Homo sapiens: one gene and its partner. The protein of the gene in region 1 interacts with the protein of each later gene in a pairwise test. Each region holds a gene or a part of one and is shown on either strand. Other genes may lie near its edges.

What was found.
Region 2: the proteins of LGALS9C (region 1) and BACE2 interact in binary tests that used the Homo sapiens proteins (3 or more experiments, as listed by UniProt).

The regions. Positions count from the first base shown.
Region 1 is NC_000017.11:18,470,452-18,482,089, reverse strand, and holds the start of LGALS9C (galectin-9C), read right to left. Parts: upstream 5,302-11,638; 5' UTR 5,236-5,301; coding exon 5,197-5,235; intron 1-5,196. UniProt on the Homo sapiens protein: Binds galactosides.
Region 2 is NC_000021.9:41,161,051-41,173,009, forward strand, and holds the start of BACE2 (beta-secretase 2 isoform A preproprotein), read left to right. Parts: upstream 1-7,109; 5' UTR 7,110-7,213; coding exon 7,214-7,525; intron 7,526-11,959. UniProt on the Homo sapiens protein: Responsible for the proteolytic processing of the amyloid precursor protein (APP).

The DNA of each region.
Region 1 (11,638 bases):
TTGCTTCCGCATATCTGAAGGTGGGAAGAGAAGCAAGCGAGGGAGGGTATAGGATGAAGCAAGATAGGCCTGAGTTGATCATTGTTGGAGCAGAGTGATGGGTGTGTGTTGTTGATGGTACAATTCTCTCTGCATGTTTGAATTTCCTATAATAACAAGTTAAAATAAACACTGTGCAGGCCAAACAGAAAACACCCACTAGCCAAATTCAGCCTACTGGTCACTGCTTTCTGGTCTGTATTGTTGAGTTATGTGACCACACAGCACCCTGGGAAACCCATCCTAGCTCAGTGTACACACCTGGCACCGTGAAAGCCCCAGGCAATCTGAGATCTGATCCAGATAGTCTCTGCTCCCCATGGATTTGAGGGGGTTGTCTTTTCTTGCCCCTCAGGTCAGGTCTGAACTCTGCCATTAAATACTTTGGTGACCTCAAGCAAATCACAGCTTCTCTGTGTCTCTGACTTCTCTTTCTTGTCCCTGTCTACACCAGCGGTGTGGGGGAAGGAGAGTCAGCCTGATCCAGTTATGGGCCAGCATGGGCTAGGATTGGGAAGCCTGTTGTCCCTGAAACGCGTCTGTGGAAGATTTTTCCCCTTGCCTGTTTGTGGCAGCCTGTGATTCCCTCCAGAGCCTTTCATTCTATCATGAGAGACAACGCTGAAAATACACACCCTCCTGGGAAGCATGCGGCCTCCACTCAAGCGTATTCACACCACAGCACCTAGAATTGAAGGCAGAGAGTGATGGACATGGGCTCGCAAGTCCACACAAGGCTTAACTAAGGAAGCCAGGAGGGAGAAAGACCAAGTACAGGTCATGGGGGCAGGACAGGGCAGGCTAATCTCCAAGGCAACAAGTTCCCCAAAAAAGTTCTGTGAGGTTTCAAAATGTCTTAAATGGCACCCCCAATTTCTGAAAAACAAGATTATTTTATTATTTATTTTATTTTATTTTATTTTGAGATGGGTTCTCACTCTGTTGCCCAGGCTGGAGTGTAGTGAGGAGTGTGATCATGGATCACTGCAGCCTCCACCTCCTGTGCTCAAGTAATCCTCCCACCTCAGCCTCCCGAGCAGCTGAGACCAAATAAGTGCAGGCCACCAAGCCATGCCCCACTAATTTTCAAATTTTTTTGAAAAGACCAGGTCTCGATATGTTGCCAGGGCTGGTCTTGAACACCTGGGCTCAAGTGATCCTTCTGTCTTGGCCTCCCAAAGGGCCGGGATTTCAGACATGAACCACTATGCCTGTCCTGAAAAATGAGATTTTAAATTGAATATCATCCAACAAACAAGGTTATTCATTGCAGCATTATAACACAAAGGATTATAAAGCAAAGCATTGGAAGGAGCCTAAAAGTCTTCCAACAGGGAAAAGGTGAAATAAATTAGGGTATTTCCATATAATAGAATAAGTTCTGTGTAGCTTTCAAAAGAAAAGAAAAAGAAGACGGAAAAGAAAAAAGAAAAAGAGGAAAACTCTGAGCACCGATATGGAATAATGCCATTTGCATAAAAAGTGGGTAGGGGAAGGCTATGGACTTGCATTTATTTATTTATAGATAAAATATCTCTGGAAGGATTTACAAGAAACTTATAATACTGGTTATCAGTGGGCGACCCCCCAGAAACATCCACATTCGAATCCCCGGAAACTGTGAATATGTTGTAGAAGGGACTTTGCAGATGTGATTAAATGCATAATTTTGGCATGGGGAGATTGTCTTGGATTATACAGGTGGTCCCAATGTAATCACAAAGGTCCCATAAAAGGGAGCAGGAGGATCAAAGTCAGAGGTAAGAGATGTGACAACAGAAGCAAGAAGCTGGTTTTGGGGGTTTTGTTTGTTTGTTTGTTGTGTTTTTTTTTTTTTTTTTTGAGACAGGATCTCATTCTGTCACCCAGGCTGGAGTGCAGTGGCATGATCTCAACTCACTGCAGCCTCCACTTCCCCAGGCTCACGCGATCCTCCCACCTCAGCCTCCCAGGTAGCTGGGACTACAGGCATGCACCACCATGCCTGGCTAATTTTTGTCTATTCTTTGTAGAGACACAGTCTCAGTTTGTTGCCCAGGCTGGTCTCCAACTCCTGGGCTAAAGAGATCCTCCTGCCTCAGCTTCCCAAAGTGCTGGGATTACAGGCATGAGCCACTGCACCCAGACAAAGCTGCTGGTTTTAAAGATGGCAGGAGGGGTCATAAGCCAAGGCAGGCAGGCAGCCTCTAGAAGCTGGAAAAGCAAAAGAAACAGATTCTCCCCTGGAGCCTCCGGAAGGAGACAACCTTGCTCACACGATGATTTTAACATCTGCCCTCCAGAATCATTAAGAAAGCAAATTTGTTGTTTTAAGATTGGCCAGCCAAGGCTGCTGTGGAATTTAGATCCGTGTGTCCAGGAAACCCAGGAAAACAACTGGACCTACTTTTGCTCCGTAGGGTGCAGGAGGATGGATTTTTGTGTTGGATTTGTGGTCCCATGGGCCTGGGCTCGCCTCCCAGCTCTGTACACTAGCAATTCTGACACTGGCCAAGTCACTTGACCTGCCTGTGCCCCACTTCCCTCCTCTGAATGGCAGGGCAGTAACACCACCCGACAGTGTTCTGGAGAGGACTGGAAGCAATGCTGTGTGCTGAGTCCCTGGCTGGCAGCATTCTGGAGAGGACTGGGTGGAATGCCATGTGCTGAGCCCCTGGCTGGCAGCGTTCTGAGAGGACGGGGTGCGATGCCATGTGCTGAGCCTCTGGCCCATGTCGGCCTTGACAGTGCAGCTCTTTGCATGGAACAAATCAATCCCTCTGCTGAGTCAGAACTTACTCTCTGTTCCTGGTTGTGCCCAGAGACCGGGGACTTTCCCTCTTCTTCCTACCTGGAAGTCAAAGCAGAGCTGAGCCCTGCGGACCAGAATGTGGGCAGCCTCATTCTGGACTCAGCATCACCAGAGGACACCAAGGCCTGGCCCCAGGAGTAGGGAGCTCAGCCTGGCTGGCCGAGACTGCCTGCCAGCTGGAGCCAGTACGTGGCCCTTAGCCAAAGTGCCCTGTTGCCTCAGAGGCTCCACGGTCCTGCTGGCCACCTTTCATGACACTTTGATTTTAGCCTTCTGACCTCCAACACTGTAAGCACAAATGTGTTGTTTTAAGTTGGCCAGCTAAGGCTGCTGTGGCATTTGGATCCATGTGTGTCCATGAGGGCTCTGGGGGTGACCGGGAACATTTATCCTCACAGCAACCCCGGCCACTTTTACAGATGAGGAAACTGAGGCACAGAAAAGTTCAGTCACTTGCCCAAAGCTACACAGCTGGTCGGCAACAGAGCTGGGATTTGAACCCCAGCACCCACGCTTCTAACCACCACACAGGCTTCCTCTCATGAGGAAGCTCGGAACGTCCTTATTCCTGGCTCTCGCAGTGCTTCCTGGGCCACACAGCAGGTGGTTCCAGCTTCCCCCCAGCCCTCCAAAGAGGCTGGGCTAGATGAGGCCAGACAAGAAGTGGGAGTGAGGTTTCCAAGCCAGGCCCTCATGGCACTCAGCCCTCCTCAGCAGGACATGAACCGCGTGACCTTCCCCCACTGTCGGCATGTGGAGAAAGCGTGACTCCGACTGCCAGATGGGTCACCGAGTGAGGCTCAAGTGTCCCAACCCAGGGGAGCCCCCGTAGGGTAGAGGGGAGCTCTGGACACCTGTGGGGGCTGCACTGATCGTCTTTCTTGTCTGAGCTCCAAGGCCCCGCTTTAACTCTCTCAAACTCTCTGATGTGCATAGGAGGATTTTCCTTCTGAATCCAAAGATTAGAAAGTAAAAACCAGTTACCAGAATAATAATATGTCAGAACCTGGAAGAAGCTCTGGGATCCCCTCTCTGACAGAAAACCAGAAATGGGGTGACATGCTCAAGGTGGCACACGCTGACCCTAAGGCTCGCCCAACACCGGCAGCCCATTCCAGCTTCCCCCACTCCCTCTATGCAGGTTCTACCTTGGGGGCTTCCATAGGGTGGCTGAGGGGTCATTGGTGACAGCCAGGAGGAAACAGGCCTCCTTTCTCCATTCTTCCTCTCTGGAGTCTAGAAAGCAGAGCTGAGCTCTGCAGACCAGAACATAGGCAGCCTCATTCTGGACTCAGTATCACCAGAGGGCACCCAAGCCCAACCCTGGCCTCTGCTGAGGTGGCCCCTGGCAGCTTCCCTGCCCTCAGCACCCTGCCTCTGCCCACCCTCCCCATTCTGCCTCCCCACTCAGGAAGGGCCCATCAGCCCACCCACTCCAGCCCCTCGGGAAGCTCTTTGCCAAGGCAGGGTGAGATCCTGTGACAGGACCCAGCCCAGGACACAGTCACCCCTGAAGGCTCCTGGGCTCCTGGGGCTGCCACTCCCATCTGGGGGCATTTGGCAACTGGCCTTTGCCTCCCTGAACCTTGGATTTTCCGTGAATGAAGGGGACTCATAAACCTCACAGAGTTTCAGCAAGGCACCTGCAGCCCTCTGACCCCACACTGCAGGGACAGTCCCTGCCTCCGTCACCTCTGAGACTGTCCGTCTACAGATGCCCTGACATGCCTATGCCTGGTTAACTCCGCCTCACCCTTCAGAGCACAGACACCTCCTCGGGAGGCCTTCCCTGCTGCACCCAGACTCCCAATAACATGAAACACTCCCAAAGCACCTACAGTGTGTCAGGCACTGTTCAAACACTCTAGATACACTACTTCCTTAATCCATATCCCAACCCTGGGAGTGGGGGGCTCAAGTATTATTCCCACTTCACAGATATGGAAACTGAGGCCCAGAGACCACCAGCCAGTAAATAGCTGGACCCAGGGAGGCCAACTCCACAGTACGCACCCTTAACTACCATGCCGGGTAGCATCCTTACTGTCCCAGAAGCATGCTTGCTTCCTCTTTACACAAACCATCCCACTCTACACCTCTTCCCCTGAGCGCACAGGACAGGACAGGACAGCTCAGCCAACACTGTCAAACCCATGACTCATGGGAGGAGCATCTCTCCAGGCATGAGTGAGCTCAGCATGGCACAGCTGTGCCAGGACGACCCCCACTGACATTTCTGCCCTGCTTGTGTTCTCTTTGGGATGCCCCCACCCCTATCTCCTGCCACCCAGGAGTTGCTTCCTCAGAGCCCCAGAACTGTGTCCCCCTGGCTGAGGCAGCCCTGTGCCCACGGCCCCGGAACTCACTGGGCTCAGATAGGGAGCCTGGCAACCGCTGAAGGCCATCTCTCCACCGCCTCTGTGGCCACCACTGCCTTTGACACCTGCCAGGCAGTCCTTTGCAGAAGGAATGACTTAACAAAGTAATAGAAACCAAAGCAACTTGGCTGTTATTCAATGGGGAGGAGCCGGCAGCAAGAGGAAGTGGGTCCAGAGAGAGAAAGGTAGGGTGTTGGGTGAACTGGGGTGACACTCATAGAGGGAAGTAGGCACTCCCAGCCCCAGTGACCTTTCCCTCCTCCCTCTCCTGTGCTCAACCCAAGCCTGAAGCATATTTGGTTCATAGAGGTCTACAATGCTTGACCACACTGACATGACAGTGAGTTGCCAGATGACACTGCCCAGAAGTATGTGGCTGTGTGTCCTAAGCATGCTTGGCCACTGGTTCCAGAAAATAATGGGGCTGGGTATTGCCTGTGCACAGGGTGCTTGTGGGGAAGGGTGGCTTCAACTCATTTTACATATAGAGAAGCTGAGGCTCAGAGTCTGAGGGACATGCCCCAGGTCACACAGCTAATTCGTGGCAGCCTGAGCTATATGAAGATTCTCAGAATCTTCAAGAAGTATTTCTCCTCTTTAAATTTCTATTCTTCATGTTAAAACATAATTATGTAGAAGGGAATATTTTGCATGAAAAACACTATAATGAAGATTTTTATTCTAGAGTATGGGGTGCCCAGGAGCTTCTGATCCTCCCCCTCAGTGAATCTCTCTTTCTTCTCTTCTCCATCCTTATTTTGTGAGCTTTAGGATGGGGAGAGAAGTATTGGACATAATAGAACATTTCAAGTGACATGGGAGTGGGAAGGAACATATGGCATGAACTGCCTTTAATTGGCTTCAGCACCTAGTTAGGGGAAATAATTGGCTGAAACAGAGAATAACAGGATAGGCTGCAGAGGGGAGAGGGAGCCATGAAATAAACTTACCTGAAGTTGACCAGGTCCCAACGATGTGCTGGCGAGAAGGCCCAGAACTCAAGCTGGGGATGGGCGGGTAAGGACCATACAGGCTCGAGGGGATGGCAGGTGCCCCAGGGCCATACGTAAGTCTGCACCTCTCTTCCTTCCTGTGTTCTGCCTAGATGCACTAGAATTTGCAGACGAACTCCTTTGAGATGTTCCCATAGACTGAGGCCGTGTGTGTCGTCTGCACTCACCATCCCATTATGTTCTGGATCAAGTAGAATTTGACCAAGTTAAGGAGTAGACAGTACAAGGGGAGCAGAAAGGAGAGAAAAGAAGGGAAATTCTTTGCAATCCTCTCGAATACCAGGAATATTTTCATCACGTCACGTCATTTGTAGCAATCACCAATTGATTGGGATATGGAACAACTGGAACTATCATTCATAGCAGACTTGAGTGTAAAATAATCCAACTTAGAAAAATGGGCAGGGCGTGGTGGCTCATGCCTGTAATCCCAGCCCTTTGGGAGGCTGAAGTGGGAGGATCACTTGAGTCCAAGAAGTTGAGACCAGCCTGGTCAAGATAGGAAGACCCTGTCTCTACATATAATTTAAAAGGCAAATTAGCCAGGTGTGGTGGTGCACACCTGTGGTCCCAGCTATGTGGGAGGCTGAGGTGGGAGGCTCACTTGAGCCCAGGAGGCCGAGGCTGCAGTGAACCCTCATCACGCCACTGCACTCCAGCCTAGGTAACAGAGCAAGACTCTGTCTCAAAAAATAAAAAAAATAAAGAGAAAGAAAAACTGCTTGGTGAGTTGTAATATAGTCAAATATCTACTTCAAAGTTGCTGGCTTTTCTACTTCTGAAAAATTACCCAAGAGAAAGGAAAACATATTTGTCTGTTTTTAAAAGCTTTACTCGTCATAGCCCCAGGCTGGTAACAATGCAAATAGTCACCAACAGAAGAAGGGAGAAATGAATTGTGGTTTTCACACTACAGAGTGGCCCTCAGCAATAAAAAGGAGCTAGGCCACAGGAAACGTCAATGAGCCTTGCAACTGAGCGGAAGAAGCCAGATCCAAACAGACACATGCTGTGAGAATTCCATTCGAGTCAAGTTGAACAACAGGCTAGAGTGGCGTTACCCTTGGGAGTCACTGACTGGGAGGGGCACGAAGGAGTCTTCGAGAGGCTGGAAATGTTCTGGATCTGGTTCTGGGTGGTGGTCCCACAGGTGTTTACATCCATTAACAACAGGCTGAGGCTGGGTGCAGCAGCTGACACCTGTAATTCAGCACTTTGGGAGACTGAGGCAGGAGGATTGCTTGAGTCCGGGAGTTTGAGACAAGCCTGGGCAGCATAGCAAGACCTTCTGTGTACTAAAAATCAAAAAAATTAGTGAGGCATGGTGGTGCATGCCTGTAGTCCCAGCTACAGGGAGGCTGAGGCAGGAGTATTGCTTGAGCCTGGGAGGCTGAGGCCACAGTGAGCTATGATCGTGCCACTGCATTGCAGGTTGAGTGACAGAGCAAGACCCTGTCTCAAAACAAAACAAAACAAAACAAAACTCAAACAGAAAACCAGGATCTGTACATTTTATTCTACCTAGACAATATCGCCATAAAATACTGCTAAAAGAAAAAATCTCCCAGAGCCCAAGGAGACACAGGCACAGCTAAGAGTTCCAGCAGTTTAGCACCTTAGCATCACCTTGAGCCTTGGAGGTGAGTCACAGTTAAGCAGCTTCACTAGTGAGTCCAGCCCATAAAGGAGGGCCCTCTGCTCCATGCCCTGTCTGGAGGGGCCCCAGTAAGGTCATACCCAAAGGCTGACATGTTTTTAGACTAATCAACACAGTAGGGAGGCACTTCGAGGCACAGTGCCAGGCCACTGAGAGTTCTGACTTCGGCACCCTTCAGTCACCACAATCCATTCCCAGTGGTTAGCTCTGGTCTTCAGGAGACTAGAAGCAGCCCTCGGGAATGTTCGTGCTCAGAGCTCTAGTGTTCAAAGTCACAGACCCTTCTCAGAGGCTCTCTCTTCTCTGCCCTATAGACTGAGGGAGTCTGCCACCTCACACTCATTAGGATGCCTATGATTAAAAAAAAAATCCAGAAAATAACAACTGTTGGCCAGAATGTGAGTAAACTGGAACCCTGTGAAAACAGCGTGGCTGTTCCTCAAAAACCTCATCATAGAATTACTATATGATCCAGCAATTCCACTTCTGGGTATATCCCCCAAATAACCAAAAGCAGGAACTCAAAGAGACATGTGAACACCCACGTTTGTAGCAGCATCATTCACAAAAGCCAAGAGGTGAAAGCAACACGTGTCCATCAACGGATGAGTGGTCAGCAAAATGTGGGCCAGACATACAATTCAGCCCTAAAAAGGAAGGAAATTCTGGCATATGCCACAACATGGATGGTCCTTGAGAACATTAAGTGAAATAAAACAGCCATAAAAGAACAAGCACTGTAGGCCGGGTGCGGTGGCTCACACCTGTAATCCCAGCACTTTGGGAGGCCAAGGTGGGAAAATCACCTGAGGTCAGGAGTTCAAGACCAGCCTGGCCAACATGGTGAAATCCCGTCTCTATTAAAATTACAAAAAGTAGCCAGGCGCGGTGATGAGTGCCTGTAGTCCCAGCTACTCGGGAGGCTGAAGCAGGAGAATCGCTTGAACCTGGGAGGCAGAGGTTGCAGTGAGCTGAGGTCACACCACTGCACTCCAGCCTGGGCAACAAAATGAGACTCTGTCTCAAAAAAAAAAAAAAAAGAAAAAGAAAAAGCACTGTATGATTTTACTTGTCTGAGATACCTAGAGTGGCCAGAATCAACAAAAGAAAGTAGAATGGTGGTTAGGGGCTGGTAGGAGGGGGAATGAAGACTTATAATTTAATAGGCATAGAGTTCTGGTTTTACAAGATGAAAAGAGTTTTGCGGATGGATGGTAGTGATAATTGTATAACAGCATGAATGTTCTTAATACCACAGGTCTACCACTTAATATTGGCTCTTGGCTAAGATCTTAGCTGAGGCCATTGACTGGAACACCTGCAAGTGGCTTTTCCACATGGCTTGGGCTTCCCCACAATATGGTGGCTGGAGTCCACGGGTGAGCATTCCCAGCGAGAGCCAGGTGGAACTTACATCCCTTTTATAACCTAGCCTCAGAAGCCATCCAGTGCCATTTCCACCACATTCTATTTGTTGAGGCAATCACATGAGCACCACCCAGGCTCAAGGGGAGGGGAAAGTGACCTCACCTCTAGACAGGAGGCAGCAAGAGGTTGAAAGAGCACCTGGGACCAGGAATATTTGGAAAATTCAATGCCTGCCGCAGACAATAAGTAAGTGCTGGACTCCTCTGGGCACTGGGGTACAGAGAGAATTGGACATAGTCCCAGCCTTAAGCATCTCATATTCCAAAGGGTAAGATGGATATACAGCTGGGCTACATGGCTTCAAGGAGGAAGTGCACACAGATTTTTTTTTTTTTTTTTTGAGACAGAGTCTGTCTCTGTCGCCCAGGCTGGAGTGCAATGGCGCCATCTCAGCTCACTGCAAGATCCCCCTCCAGGGTTCAAGGATTCTCCTGCCTCAGCCTCCTGAGTAGCTGGGATTACAGGCACCCACCACCACACCCGGCTACTTTTTTGTATTTTTAGTACAGACAAGCTTTCACCATATTGGCCAGGTTGATCTCGAACTTCTGACCTCAGGTGATCCACCCACCTCGGCCTCCCAAAATGCTGGGATTACAGGTGTGAGCCACCGTGCCCGGCCAAGATTTTTTGTTAAAGTTAATATAGTTGGTTATGTGCTGGACATCATTCTAGGTGTCTTACAATTAACTTTATGTCAGTTTTATGAAGCAGGCACAAATAATAATCCCCATTCTACCTGGAAAGAAACAAAAGCACGGAGAGGTGAAGCAACTTGCCCACAGTCACACAGCGGCAAAGTGCCAGAGTGGGGACTCAGCCCGGGCAGTCCCGCAATGGAGTCTGTGCTGCTCACCACGGCACCACCCCACCTCTCTTCTCAGATGCCCCCTCATGGGATGGACCTACTTTCACGGACCTCAACGTCTTTGCAGGGAACATGGGCCTGAGTGACTGCACTCTGTCCCTAGGGAGTGAGGAGGGTTCTGCCAAGTGGTTTCATTTTGATCACTGTTTTCTGTGCCTGGGGGGTGGGAAGCCCAGAATGGCACAGCTCAGCTCCTAGTCCTATCAACTCACTCTCATCCAGGGCTGATTCCAGAGGGGTGGCAGGGAATGAGGGGTGGGGGTTGCTCTGCTGAACAGGAAGGAACACTGAGTCCATTCTCTTTTGTATCTGGGGATCCCCAGAGAAGAATGCAACATGGTATGAAAGAGTGGAACGCCAGCTTCTAGGGGAGCCCCAGTGTCCAACAAGGGCACACACTTTGGGAGTCAGCCAGGCCTGGCCCCAATTCCAAGCTCCTTCACTTCCAGGCGGGATGATGCTGTGCAGGCTACTTCACTGCAGTAACCCCCAGTTTTCCCTTCTGTACATGGGGGTGATATTTTCTCACATGACTTCCCTGATGTGAAATGAGAGAACACATGTAAAGCACCTAGCATGATCCTGCCACGTAGTAGGCAGTCAGTGACCATCTCTCCCTTTGGCCAGGCTTCCTGGCATGTGCCGGACCTAGACCCTGTCCCCCAAGGAATCTGACCAACACACTGCAGTGTGGGCTTTCACCTCCCTTGTTTCTACACACTCTACCACCAGTGATGTCACCTAAGATTATTTTATTATTTTGGCAGCCATATCCCTCAGTGGTTCTCATCAACTAAAATCCTACAGTTCTTTCCACAGGTAGCAGCTGCTTCTCAGTGTCCTCCCAGCGGCCATCATAAATGACCTGGCTGCAGTGATAGTTGTGCTGTTACAGAAATATGGAAAATCCCAGGCCACTTCCTGCACACCTCAGGACCTGTTTCCTTCCACACTAAAGGCTTGCTCAATACCCCAACGAAGGAGAGATGGGTAAGATTCAGAACCCAGGCCTCCCGCACCCTCCCTCTGATGAGCCCTATTCCTGAGGCATATTGTCCAGCCATTTGCTCAAGGGAGAAAGACAGTAGATGCTCAGTTCCTACTTGGTGATGAGAAGGTGACTGAGAAGGGTGTGTCTACTTCTTCAGTGCGGCTCTGCCTCCCAGCCTAGAAACTGACTGAAATAACAACCAACAATTTTAAAGGTGGGATGTGGGCGGGAAGTGGAAATCTACATTCACACTGGAAACTAGAGTGTTGTCACGGGCCGTCCACATGCTGCGAGCATTGAACGTGATGCGTTGCCAGAGCTCACGTGGGCTGGAAAGAAGGCATCACCGGGTCACTGCAATCAATGCACAACTTCCCTTCTGGGAATGGACTTAGTGATCCTGGAAGGGAGGTGCAGATCCTGGCTGGATGAGGGCAGCCATCAGGCTTTGAACATTCACTTTATGTGCTAAG
Region 2 (11,959 bases), on another chromosome or scaffold:
CAGGCTTAAAACCCTAGATGACACTCTCAGGAAAGGAAAACCAGTGTCTGCTGAGCGACTGCTATGTTCCAAGTGTTGCCCAGTTTCACCAGCTCTAATGATACTAGGATACATGCCTCGACCAAAAGAACCATCCTTTCATGTACTACTAAAAGCATGCTACCATTAAACCATGATACTTTATTATTATTATTTAGGATTTCTGTTTTGTATGTATGAAGAAGGCTGGGCCCTATTTAGACATTCTTATATAAACATTATATATAGGTGAAATCAATTGTTAAATCATTCCTAACATTTTCCACACTCAGGCTAACTCTTCTGAATCACATTTGGACTTGGAGTCATCAATATCCATGTTTTTCCATGCGCTGTCATCTTCTTTGCCATTAAGATGTCAGGTGGTAGAGAATTTCATAAGAGTAGCATATGAGTTTCCTATACACTGCAGTCACAAATTATCACAACTTTTGTGGCTTAAAACAAAGCAAACCTTGTCTTCTACTTCTCCGGGTCAGAGGTCTGCCACAGGCCTCACTGGGCTGTCAAGGGGTCACAGGATTGCTTTGCTTTCTGGAGTCCACTTCCTTGCTGTTGCCAGTTTCTCCAGCAGCCTGTGTTCCCTGGCTCATGGCCTCTACCGCTGCTACAAAGCCAGCAACGTTGCATCTCTCTGACCCACCATTCTTCCACAGTCATGGCACCCTCTGAGCACAGCTGGAAAGGTTCTCTGATTTTAAGGATGCACTTGATTAGCTTGGGCTAGCATCTGGATTAACCAAAATAACCTCCCCATCTCAAAGATCTTCCTTGAATCACATCTTCACAGTTCTTTTTGCCATGTAAGGCAACTGATTTCTTGGTTCTGGGGATTAGGGCAAAGACATCCTTGGGGGACACTGTCCTCCTCACTACAAGCAGTTTCCTATGGTCTCCAGAACACCCCCAGCCCCTGACACCTTCCTGAAAATGTTTATGCTGGGGCTCTCTTGACACTGTCAGAAGCTGTCAACAGGAAGGTGTTAGACACCTTCTCCAATGATCCTTAGTCATTTGGTAACTAAAATGTCAGGAGAGTGGTTTCCCATCATGACACCAGGAATTACAACAATATGCCTACCCTCACCATGCCATGGCTGTGGCATGGAGAACATAAGACGCTACAGTGGCGTCTGCATCCTGGCTTTGGAGTGGTTAAACTAGGAACAAACAGAACTGAGAGACTGTAGAATATGATTTCATCCTCAGGAAGCCCACTACAGTGAGTCAACTGAGACTTACTGACACACAACTTCAGGAGGGGCCATTCATGTTGAGTCTATGAGAATATGCCCTCGGAGGTGGCCGGTAGACATGGAAATAAGGAAACCAGAGCTCAGGGGGCAGAAAATTGCCTGGAACATGCCAACGGTCTAAGCAGAATCAGAAGTTGATCCCAGGTCTTGAGGCTCAGAGCCTCTGAGCCTTCCATGGAGTATCTCCACGCTCATTAATACAGGAGGGCTGATGGTAAACAGACATTTGGAAACCTCTATCATTTTAGCCACCCACCTCTCTAGGTAGAACCTCGCCTAGCTGGGACCTTGCTGATGTAATATCATAGTAATGGGCCTTATTTATCCAACTGATATGCTCCTGAAAGCATGCACGGCTTTCTGTAAATGGGAATCCATTTTAAATACATGAGGAAAAATTGTTCTTTAAAGGAAGTCCGAGGTGAATCCCTACTTCCCTCTGGTCCCAAAGGTACCTAATTAGTCATTTGAAGAAGGCGACATGGGTTAGGTAAAAGAATATTTAGGCTTCTGAAGCTGACTGGGTTCAAATCCGGGATCGTCATTTCCTCACTGTGATGTCAGACGAGTCATCAACTCTCTCCCTCCGCGTCGTCCTCTGTGATGCAGGTGCATGTGCCTACCTGGGAGTGTTGGAGGATAAGAGTCCCAGGACATGGTGGGAGCTCAGCGTTCCTGTCCCTCAATTTCTTTTTATAAGGAAAATTATCATCCCTACCATCCCTGCCTCCCACTGCTTGAGGAGCAAAATGAGGCAGGATTTGTGATATTGCTCTGAAAATTGAACAGCACCAGCACCAGGCAAACAGGAGAGATTATGATGCAGATGGCTGTGTGTTGAGTGCTCCCATCACATGAGAGTCCTATGATGCTTCTTCCCTGTGCTGCGAGGGCTTCATCTCCTAAGCACTAAATGCTAAATTCCCCCTCCCACGCCCATCGCCACTGTCCTCACGGATCCTCGCAGCAGCTTCCCAATCGGTCTCCCTGTCTCCAGCCTCACCACCCCCAACTCTCCTCCACCTAGAAGCTAGAGTGGTGTTCCCAAAAAGGAAACATATTTACAGTCAGTCTGTCTCCTGCCAAATTGTAATTTCTGATGGAAGGGGCTTTCTGGGTGTTATTCGCCCATGTGAGCCCGCCTCTAGCGTGGAGCTTGGCACAGGGAGGGTTCAGCATATGTCTGTTAAGTGCCCGGTTATGGATGCAGCCTGTAGGGTTCCACTGGCCTATTGCACTTTCTGTGTCCTGCCAGGATGCGGGTGGCATTCTGGAGGCCTCTCCAGCTGGGGCAGTCCATGAGCTCCAGAAAGTTCACATCAAAGGGGTGGCCCTGGCTCCATGAGGAAGAGTACAGGCTCTGAAATCAGACCCAGGGTTCTGAATACCATTCCCACCTCTCACCAATCAACTATCAATTCTGTGCCTCAGTTTCTCGTCTGTAAAATGAGAATGATAATAATGCCTGCTAATAGGGTCATTTTTGTATTAAATAACTGAGAATATTGCCTGAAATCCTTGCCAACCCACATTATTTTGAAACAAGTCTCATTTCATCCATAAATATGGCAGCATGTGTCTCCACTAGATAAGAGCTCTCACACACACAATACCACTATCACACCTAAAGTATTAACAATAATTCCATAATATCATCCAACCAGTGTTCAAATTTCTCTAATTGTCTCATAAACAATTTTGTCATTTTGTTCAAATCAGGACTGAATAAGGTCCATCTATTGCAAGAGACTGATAGGGGTACTGGGATTCTTTTGATCTATAGCAGGGGTTGGCAGACTTTCACTGAAAAGGGTTAGACAGCAAGTATTTTGGTCTTTGTGGGCCCTTCTGTCTTTGTTGCTATGACTTAAACGAATGGCTATGGCTGTGTTTCAATAAAACTTTATTTATAAAAACAGGCAGTTGGCCAGATTTGGTCCCAAGAAGGCAGATTGCTAACCTGTGATGTACAGGCTTGTTCAGATTCAGGGTTTTTTTGTTTTGTTTTGTTTGGCGATAACATGTCATAGATGGGTAGCATTGCGGATTTCCATCCGAAGGCTTAGAATGTCAGGGTGTTTCTCTTTCCCTCTCCCTCTAATATTATCAGCCATGTACATTCGGTGTCCAGATTCATTAACTCATTAAGGGAAGTAAAATGGCAACATTCTAATTCTATCGTCCCTTCATTTATTAGCTGCAATACTTTTACAAAGAGAAACTCGCCTTTATCTACTATTTGCTTATACTGACGTATAGTTTGTACAGGAAAGTTAAGATAATACATGCTTGATCCCTTTCCTTTCTTTACCAGCTTTTAAAAATAATGAGTTGGGCTTCTTAGCATTCTTCAAAGATAATCAATGTACTTTTAAAAAGAACATTATGAGCAAATAGATTTCAACATAATTGAAGTGTTTTGAGGCATTGCAGTTACTGCCTTTAATGATGTTTAAATTGTCTCCGTTTTGCCCCAGCTTATGACAAGACCTCAGAAGTCTTTGATAACATCCTTGCTTTCTGGTGTGATGAGATATTCTAGGGTTATCTTATTCAGTTTATAAAATCAGCCTTCTCCAAAAAGCCCTGGTTCTCTCTGGAGGGAAGTGATATTTAGTAACCCTAATATGATACTAAGGATACTTATTGTTTCCAGAACTTTTCAGTAGATATATCAAAGGATCATTTTTTTAAAGGCCTCAGAAATACAGAATTCAGAATACTGAAATTTCTGAATCAGTTCAGGACCACAGCTGGCGCCTCTATGGGTAAGGTAAGTATGTGGGAGGTAAGATCCCCCATGATCAAAGCTGTTTGCGTCCCTCGGCCCAGCCCGATCAAACTTCTGGATGCCATCAAAGAGATCTGCCTAACCTAAAGATCATTGTTCTTTAAAAGAAAAACAAGTTCATTAATCATGTGAGGAGGCTTGGGGCCAGGATATAAAGTTAATGACAAGGGACTCCCTTCTATTAAAAGGACTATGTGCAAACAGGCATGCCTGGAGGAAGCCAAGGACCACGATAAAGGAAAACAAACACCTTATGATTCATCTAACATAGGCCCGGTTACAATCGCAGGTGTAAAAGGAACTGGGAGCTGGCAGTGAGAGACAACAAACATCAGTGGAACATGGGATGGTGACTCTTTCTGGCTGAGCGCCACACGTTCCTACCAGGAATCTTCTATTAGTCATTTGGGCTGGAGAGTGAGATCCTTCCTCGCTCTCCACCGTCCAGGGTCATGTTTAATGGTGATGTTTGTTCTTTCCAAGGAGAGAAGGCCCATCTAATTGCAGGGCTTTTGTTTTCCTGAATGGACTCAGGAAGGCCATGGCTGAAAACGAGGGTGCTGAGAGGCTGTAAGGAGAAGGGAAGGAGTTGGAGGCTCTGGTGGAGTGAGGAAGAGCAGGGCAGTATCCCATGTCCTCTGATGTTAGGGGTGAGGTCAGGAGGGTGGGTCTCACCTTCTCCTTTCTCTGCCCTGCATCGGTCACCATGGTTTAAAAATCAATGCTATTCCATGAGAGGGCTGCCACTTATCATTTCAGTTCCAACACCTGGAAAGTAAAATTATTGTCTCCCAAATCCACCCAGCACCATAGGCTTGAATAGGGATCATATGCTCTAAGACCATTCATGAAAACAGAGACAACCAAGGAGACAGTCACCCAATGCTGTCCCTTCAGCTTGCATTATTTTCTGACAAGACAGCTCTGCCATCCATGGAAGCCTGTGTGCTCCTCCATCCCTGGATCTTTATGCATCCTTTTCCCCACAAACCCAAACCATCCCTCTTAAAATGAAAAGCTTAGGAATACTCACCCTAGACTGAGTCACGCGTTTCTTGTACAAACTTTAATTAGACTTGATTTTTTAAAAATTTCCCTTGTGGCTTTTAATTATTAGACAGAGCAAATGTCTCTAGTATTAAACTTATATGTCACATAGCCTCTTTATCAATGGCCCTAATACATTTCATGTGCTTTTCAGAAAGATTATATTCTTCCCAGAGCTGTCTGAATGTCTTTTTGAACCCCTCAAGACTGGACACCAAGGAGTATAAATAATCATTTTAAAAAAAATCACATTCCCTCCACAACCTTGAATCTGAAACGTGAATATATGAATAGAAGGGCTCTGGAATAACTATGCAGATTTATGGAGAATATCAACTTAAGTTATATCACGGGATCCAGCTATGCCTTTCTTCATGGAGTTGGGGATTTGTTAAAGTTGAGATATAGTTTGGGGGAAGTGTGATTTATGGTTAAAGTCATCTGAAAATCAATACATTTGAAGATCTCTGACATAAAGGTCCCTTGCAGAGCTAGACGTGATTCTAAAATTGGGAACACAGGAATAAAAATCAAATCTTGAGTAGAAGTAGCTGAAAATTGCAGTGATTCGGGGAAGCTTGGCTTCTAACTCCCCACTGTTTGAAGATGGGCTTGTTTGTTTTTTAAAACAGCCAACATAATTCAGCTGGAGGAGGTACAAAGAATTTTCTATTCCTTGTTTCTGTAGAAATCGATGGACTTTAGCTTGTCTAATTGTCCCCCCTGCCTTTAGTATCTAAAATAAAATAACCCTCGTTGCTTGCATTACTCAACGCATTTCTGCGTCTTGGCGTCTATGGCTAAACGAGTATTAATTAGACAGTCCGCAGAGAGCTGGCTGGGGATAGAAGGGGAGGTGGGGGAGAAGGGCAGGGATCACAGCAGGGTGGACTCGTGGCCCTGATTTGGGATCCTGACAGCAACTTACTAGGTGGCCTGAGGGCTGGGTGCCAGGGGAGGCAGCGGGTTCCAGTAGCATCTGACCTGCATTAGGGACAGGGGCGCGGCGGAGGGGGCGAAGGGGGCGGGGGTGGGGGGAAGGTGGCTGGGGTGAAGCCCAGCTTCGCAGCTAGCTGTGGGCAACAGAGGGAGTAAGGGGGGGCAATGAGGCTGGGGCCAGGCGCCAGCAGCAGCCACGCCCCCCACCTCCCCCGATTTTTAGGGAAAATTCTCCAAAGCTCTCGCATCCTCCTCTGCCTCCTTCCACCCTCCACCCTCCCAGCCTCCACTGAGACCTCTTTAAAACCACCCAGGGGCCGCCGGGGGATGAGGCCGGGGAACGGGCTGGACTGAGGGCGGGGGCTCGGGGGCAGCGGACGGGAAACGCCTCGAAAGCAGCCAGACCCGGCGACTGAAATGAGGCGGAGGAGCTTGGCGAGGGGAGGCGCAGGCTCGGAAAGGCGCGCGAGGCTCCAGGCTCCTTCCCGATCCACCGCTCTCCTCGCTGACCTCCGAGTCACCCCCGGAAGCTCCCGCCACTGCCGGGCGAATAGACCCCCGCGGACCCCCAAGCGCGCGGGGCCGGGGCCCTAGTTCAGGCCCTCGCTGCCCCTTTAAGGGTTCTCGAAACTTTCCCCCCGGTATCAGATGAGCCTCGTCACATCCGTTGGCCGTGGCCGCTGGGGCGCTTTCCGAGGAAATTCGGGACTCGAGTTTCCCGGGGAAGAGGCGCGGCCTGAGCCCGGCGAGGGTGGGGAGGGCAGGCGCAGGTGGACCCCGGCGCCCCCCGAGCCCCGCTGTGACCTTGGCCGCGGGGGAGGGGCTGGGCCGCTGCGGGGCAGTCGCGGCCGCCAGAGGGGGCAGCGGAGAAGAACTTGCCCAACTTGGCGGCGCGGGCTGGGGCGGCTCTGCGCCTCCGCGCCCGCCTCCCCGGCCTCCGCCTTCTCCCCTCCCGCGAGCCTCCTCCCCTCCCGCGAGCCTCCTCCCCTGGGCCCTCCTCCCGTCCTCCCCGCCGCCGCCGGTCCCGGTGCGCGCCCATCCCTGCCCGCAGCCCCGCGCGCCGGCCGAGTCGCTGAGCCGCGGCTGCCGGACGGGACGGGACCGGCTAGGCTGGGCGCGCCCCCCGGGCCCCGCCGTGGGCATGGGCGCACTGGCCCGGGCGCTGCTGCTGCCTCTGCTGGCCCAGTGGCTCCTGCGCGCCGCCCCGGAGCTGGCCCCCGCGCCCTTCACGCTGCCCCTCCGGGTGGCCGCGGCCACGAACCGCGTAGTTGCGCCCACCCCGGGACCCGGGACCCCTGCCGAGCGCCACGCCGACGGCTTGGCGCTCGCCCTGGAGCCTGCCCTGGCGTCCCCCGCGGGCGCCGCCAACTTCTTGGCCATGGTAGACAACCTGCAGGGGGACTCTGGCCGCGGCTACTACCTGGAGATGCTGATCGGGACCCCCCCGCAGAAGGTAGGGACCCCCGGCTGCTGCCGCGGGCTTTTCGGGCTCGTTGGAGGGAGGGGGCTGTCCAGAGACGCCTCCACGCGGCTTAGCGTCGCCCCCAAAGCAGCAGCTGTCCCCGCACAGAAGAGCGGGGAACGCAGAGGGGCTCGGGTGGGCCGGGGAGCGGGGGCGCTCGCTCTTGAGTCGCGGAGGACGGCAGCCCCCGCCCGGGGCGCACTGAGGGGTGTGCGCGAGTGTTTCAGAACTTGTGAGCTCCCCCTCCGCGGGGCTGGGCGGGAGAGGAGACCTGGAACTTGCCGCCTCCAATAACGTGATTTCCTTCTTGCGGGCGACACCTACTTCCAGCGGGAGACGGAGCGGTGGGCCTTGGGCGACGGGCTATTATGGGGAAAATCACCTCGTGTTCATACCCTCCCTCCCCCCCGCCCCCCCCCCACCCCACCACCATGCTGTCTCATTGCTAAAGAGGCTCGTGGCCGGCTTCCAAAGGCGCAGTACCCTTTAAAAAGGATTTATGCATGAGCTCAGCTAAAAGCAACCCGGTTAAGAAGTGGCTCGCTTGCTGCTCTGAGGAAGGAGCAGCGTCTCCCCTGCGCCCGCTTTCCTTTCTCGGAGTTGGTTTGTCAGCTGTGTCCTCGCTCATCCGGCGGCCCTGCCCCTCTGCACGGAGCGATGCATCTACACGCGGGTGTGCAGAGTGTGAAAAGCATTCCAGCTACCGGGAAAAAAACAGGGGCTGAGTGAGGTGTCCGGGGACCAAGTGGTATCCCGATTACAACACAAAAATAAAATCAAACAGCTTTCCTTTTCTCTTACTCTGATGTTCATTTACTAACACTTTTTGTAGCAAGAAACAAATGTTCCCAAGCACAGTGATCTGAAAAAAAAAAAAAAAAAATCCCAATTGATCTGCCCCCTCCTACTTTCAAACTGTCTAATCCAAGTGGGATTTGAAGTCCTTTGCTCAATTGAATGCACTATTTGAAGATAGTTTATTTTTATTTTTAACATTGTCATTTGGGTTTTGATTCAGCTATGATTCCCCCATAAATAGAACATACTCATGACTTTTGTATAATTCTCATTAAATTATTCAAGACTTTAAGAGGAAAGACATGCCATGCTAATTCTTTTAAAAAAGGAAACTGCCGAATAACTTCTGTAGTTGTTTAATTAGTTTAGGGGGAAAAAAAAACCTTCAAAAGCGTATATTCAAACTTTGATTCTAGTTGCCTTTCGTCTAAGTCATGGGAAGCCACGTGAGTGATCTTTGCCATCTCCAGGAGTGGATGGTTAGAGGGAGGGAATAGGAATCCCCATCAGCTGAGGGAGCTTAACTTGGCTGTAAGATGTGGTCTTGGTGCAGCCAACACGTGGGAACATGTGCCTGGTGCTGAGAACCTTGGAAATATGACAAGATATTGAGGAAGAACCTCTTCTGTGACCTGCAGAGAATCTTTTGGAACAGGCCTTGAATGAATCCCCATTGGACATGTGTGCTTTGATGCGAGGGAATTCTCTCTACTAAAAGTAAATGTGGGTGGTCTGAGGGCTATGATAAAAGAAGCCCTGAAACCCTCCCTCCAGAGCAAAGGGGAAAGGGAGAAGCCTGAAGAAGGACTAAAAAATACTTAACTTTGGCAATCAAAAAAAAAAAGCTTTTATAAATAATAACTTGCCTGTTAATTAATTCAATGACCTTTATTTTAAAATGATGAGGTTTAATTAATTTAATTAACAGAAATGTATTGAGTACCTAGGCTCCTGTCTTTACCGTAGCCAAGGCAGTAGTTGGTTCAAGATTACTTCTCAACCATTAGCATGTTTCCAGGGAGCGCTGCTTCTACAGAGACAGATTTAATTTTTACATGTGATGGGGAATGAAATATCCTGTACCTCCCTCCTGGCTTGATTTAGCGATAAGCTGCTTTATAACCAAATCTTTCCAAATGCCTACTGTAAAGTCAGGCTTTCCTGACTACTGCATTAGGATTCACTACCTGCCTGTGTTGCCCTGAAATGTCTCTGACCACCAGCAGGGTGTCAGCAGCCGGCTAGAGGGGGCAGCAGTGAGGTGACTTCTGAACCTGGAGTGAGCTTTCCTGCTCTATTAATGGCCAGGAGTCATGCATTTATTCTCTGCTGATTCTCTGAAGCCTAAAATAAAAATTGCTTAGGTGGAGAGAAAAATGGAATTGTAAATTCAAGCAATAAATAACCAAGAATTTTTCAAGAATTAAGTAATAGTCATAGACAATGTCTGAAAGCTCAGTACGTGACAAGCACTGCGCTCTGTGCTTTAGGTGTGCTTTCCCAGGAATCCCCACCCACCACCCACCACCCCTCGGGGGTCTTATACGCATTTGGGGGTGGGAAAACTGAAGCTCGGAGAGACTGAATGACTTTCCAGGGCAACAGGGCAAGAAAGAGGGAGGGCCAAAAATGGAAGCCAGGGAGCTGAACTTCAGAAGCCAAGTTCTGAACCACCAGACAGATAACGACTTCCTTCCCTTCATGCCTCCTGATCTCTTTGGTTTTGGCCTCAAACTACCCTTTCTAGCCAGAGAACCCTGAACGTACACCCCAAGGTGTTAGGGACTTATTGTATGACTGCAACTGGACCCTCCGGAACTCCGTGCTGTTCCCCCATCTCCTCTTTCCTTCAGCACTGCTGAATGAGCAACAGAATGAAGGGCTGGATCCAGGTGTGCACGGGAGAGGCCTTGAGAGGAGAGGTTCAACAGGAACCAGAGCCCTCCAGCTCCCCTTCTTTTATGGGAAAGTCAACTGTTGGAAGTGTGCTTGTTCCCCGAAGGCTTTAATCAGGAACTAGAGGTCCATTGTTTAAAGCCCAGTGACTCTGTGAGGAGTCACAGGCATGTGCCCGGAAGCCCGCCTGAGAGCTGCAAGGCGTGTGTGCTGGCAGGCAGGGCCACGTTGGCATGGAGATGACTGCCAGGTTTGCGGCTGATCCCATTATGTGGGTTCTTTCGAACTGTAGAACTTTTGAACAGTTCTTTCAACCAGCACCTGCTTGAACCGTGCAATTTGGTCTTATTAATAATAACACTCTTCTAAAGTAATTATAATTACAGCAATTTCTATTATGAAAAAAGAGACTTTCATGTTAACACAATAACTCCAGCTGAAGACAGGAGAAGGTGTGCAGCCATATACCTTGTAGTAGCTTCAAAAAAAGCCTTTGGGATTCTTTTTCTGAAAGATTTTCTGTCATCTCCACTAACATAGGTAAAGCAGACAGCAAAACTATTCTCATACCTGAACACTTGAATGTAAAGGGCCACCTAATTATTTTGGCGAATCCTATTTTAATCATGGTGCATTCACTTGATTATCAGCCTCTTAGTACACAATTATTTGGAAGACTTGTATTGAAAATATGGATCCAGCATATGCAATAAGAGTTTGTGTTCTTCAGAAGAAGCCATCCAGGCTCCCCAAATGAAGCTGACTGTAGGTGAGGCTGAAAACAAGAAGGCAATCCCAGCAAGAAGAAATCTGATGGAGCCACTTGAAATGGTAAACTATTAAAGACAATGAGAAAAAACAATTACTGAGGTTGAAAGAACAAGAAAGTCAAAGCCAGTTTGCCACCAGCTCCTTCGAGTGAGAAGTGGCAGCTTCTGGGCTTTAGAGAAAGAATTCATCAAAGACTGTATTACAGAGGACTGGGAAAGGTGAGCCAAGAAATCAGCTTGAAACAACAAGGAGGGACAGGAGTCTGAGAAATAGTTTATAAGATCAAGAGCTGACCTTGATTTCTTGCTGATGGAGTGTTGGACACTCAAAGGGCACGTGAAGCCCTGTGCGTGGCTCACCTCATTGTATCCTTGCAACGTCCTGGAAAATGTGCACAACAATGTGACTTAATTTTCAGACAGGGTAACCGAGGCTTGGAGAGGCAGAGTAGTTTGTCCAGGGCCACACTAGTGAAGGCAAAGCAGGGTGGAGCTGTCAATCTGGGTCAGCCCAGCTCAGTCTTTGCACGTCACTGCCGTTCCTCCTTAGGTGCAGTGTTTTAGTTACAGTAACTTTTTAAGAAGAACCATCTTCATGCTTCTGGAGATGATGTGGTTTGACAGGAAGCATCCTGATGTGATTACAGGTCCTGAGCACTGTAGTGTCACACCTGTGACCAGGAGCAAGTGTGTAACCTCCCTCATCTTCCCTTTCCTCAGCTGTGGAGAATCAAATTTCTGCATTAATGTCCTGGTCTCAAAACAATAGAAACTTGTTCTCATAATTCTGCAGGCCAGAGTTCAAAAAGCAAGGCGACAGCAGAAACACTGTCCCTCCGGAGGCTCTGGGGGAGGATCCTTCCTTCCCTCTTCTTAGTGTCTGATGGCTGCTGGCATTTCTTGACCCTTGGCCGCATGACTCCAATCTCTCCCCTCCATGTAAGTTTCTGTGGCCAAATTC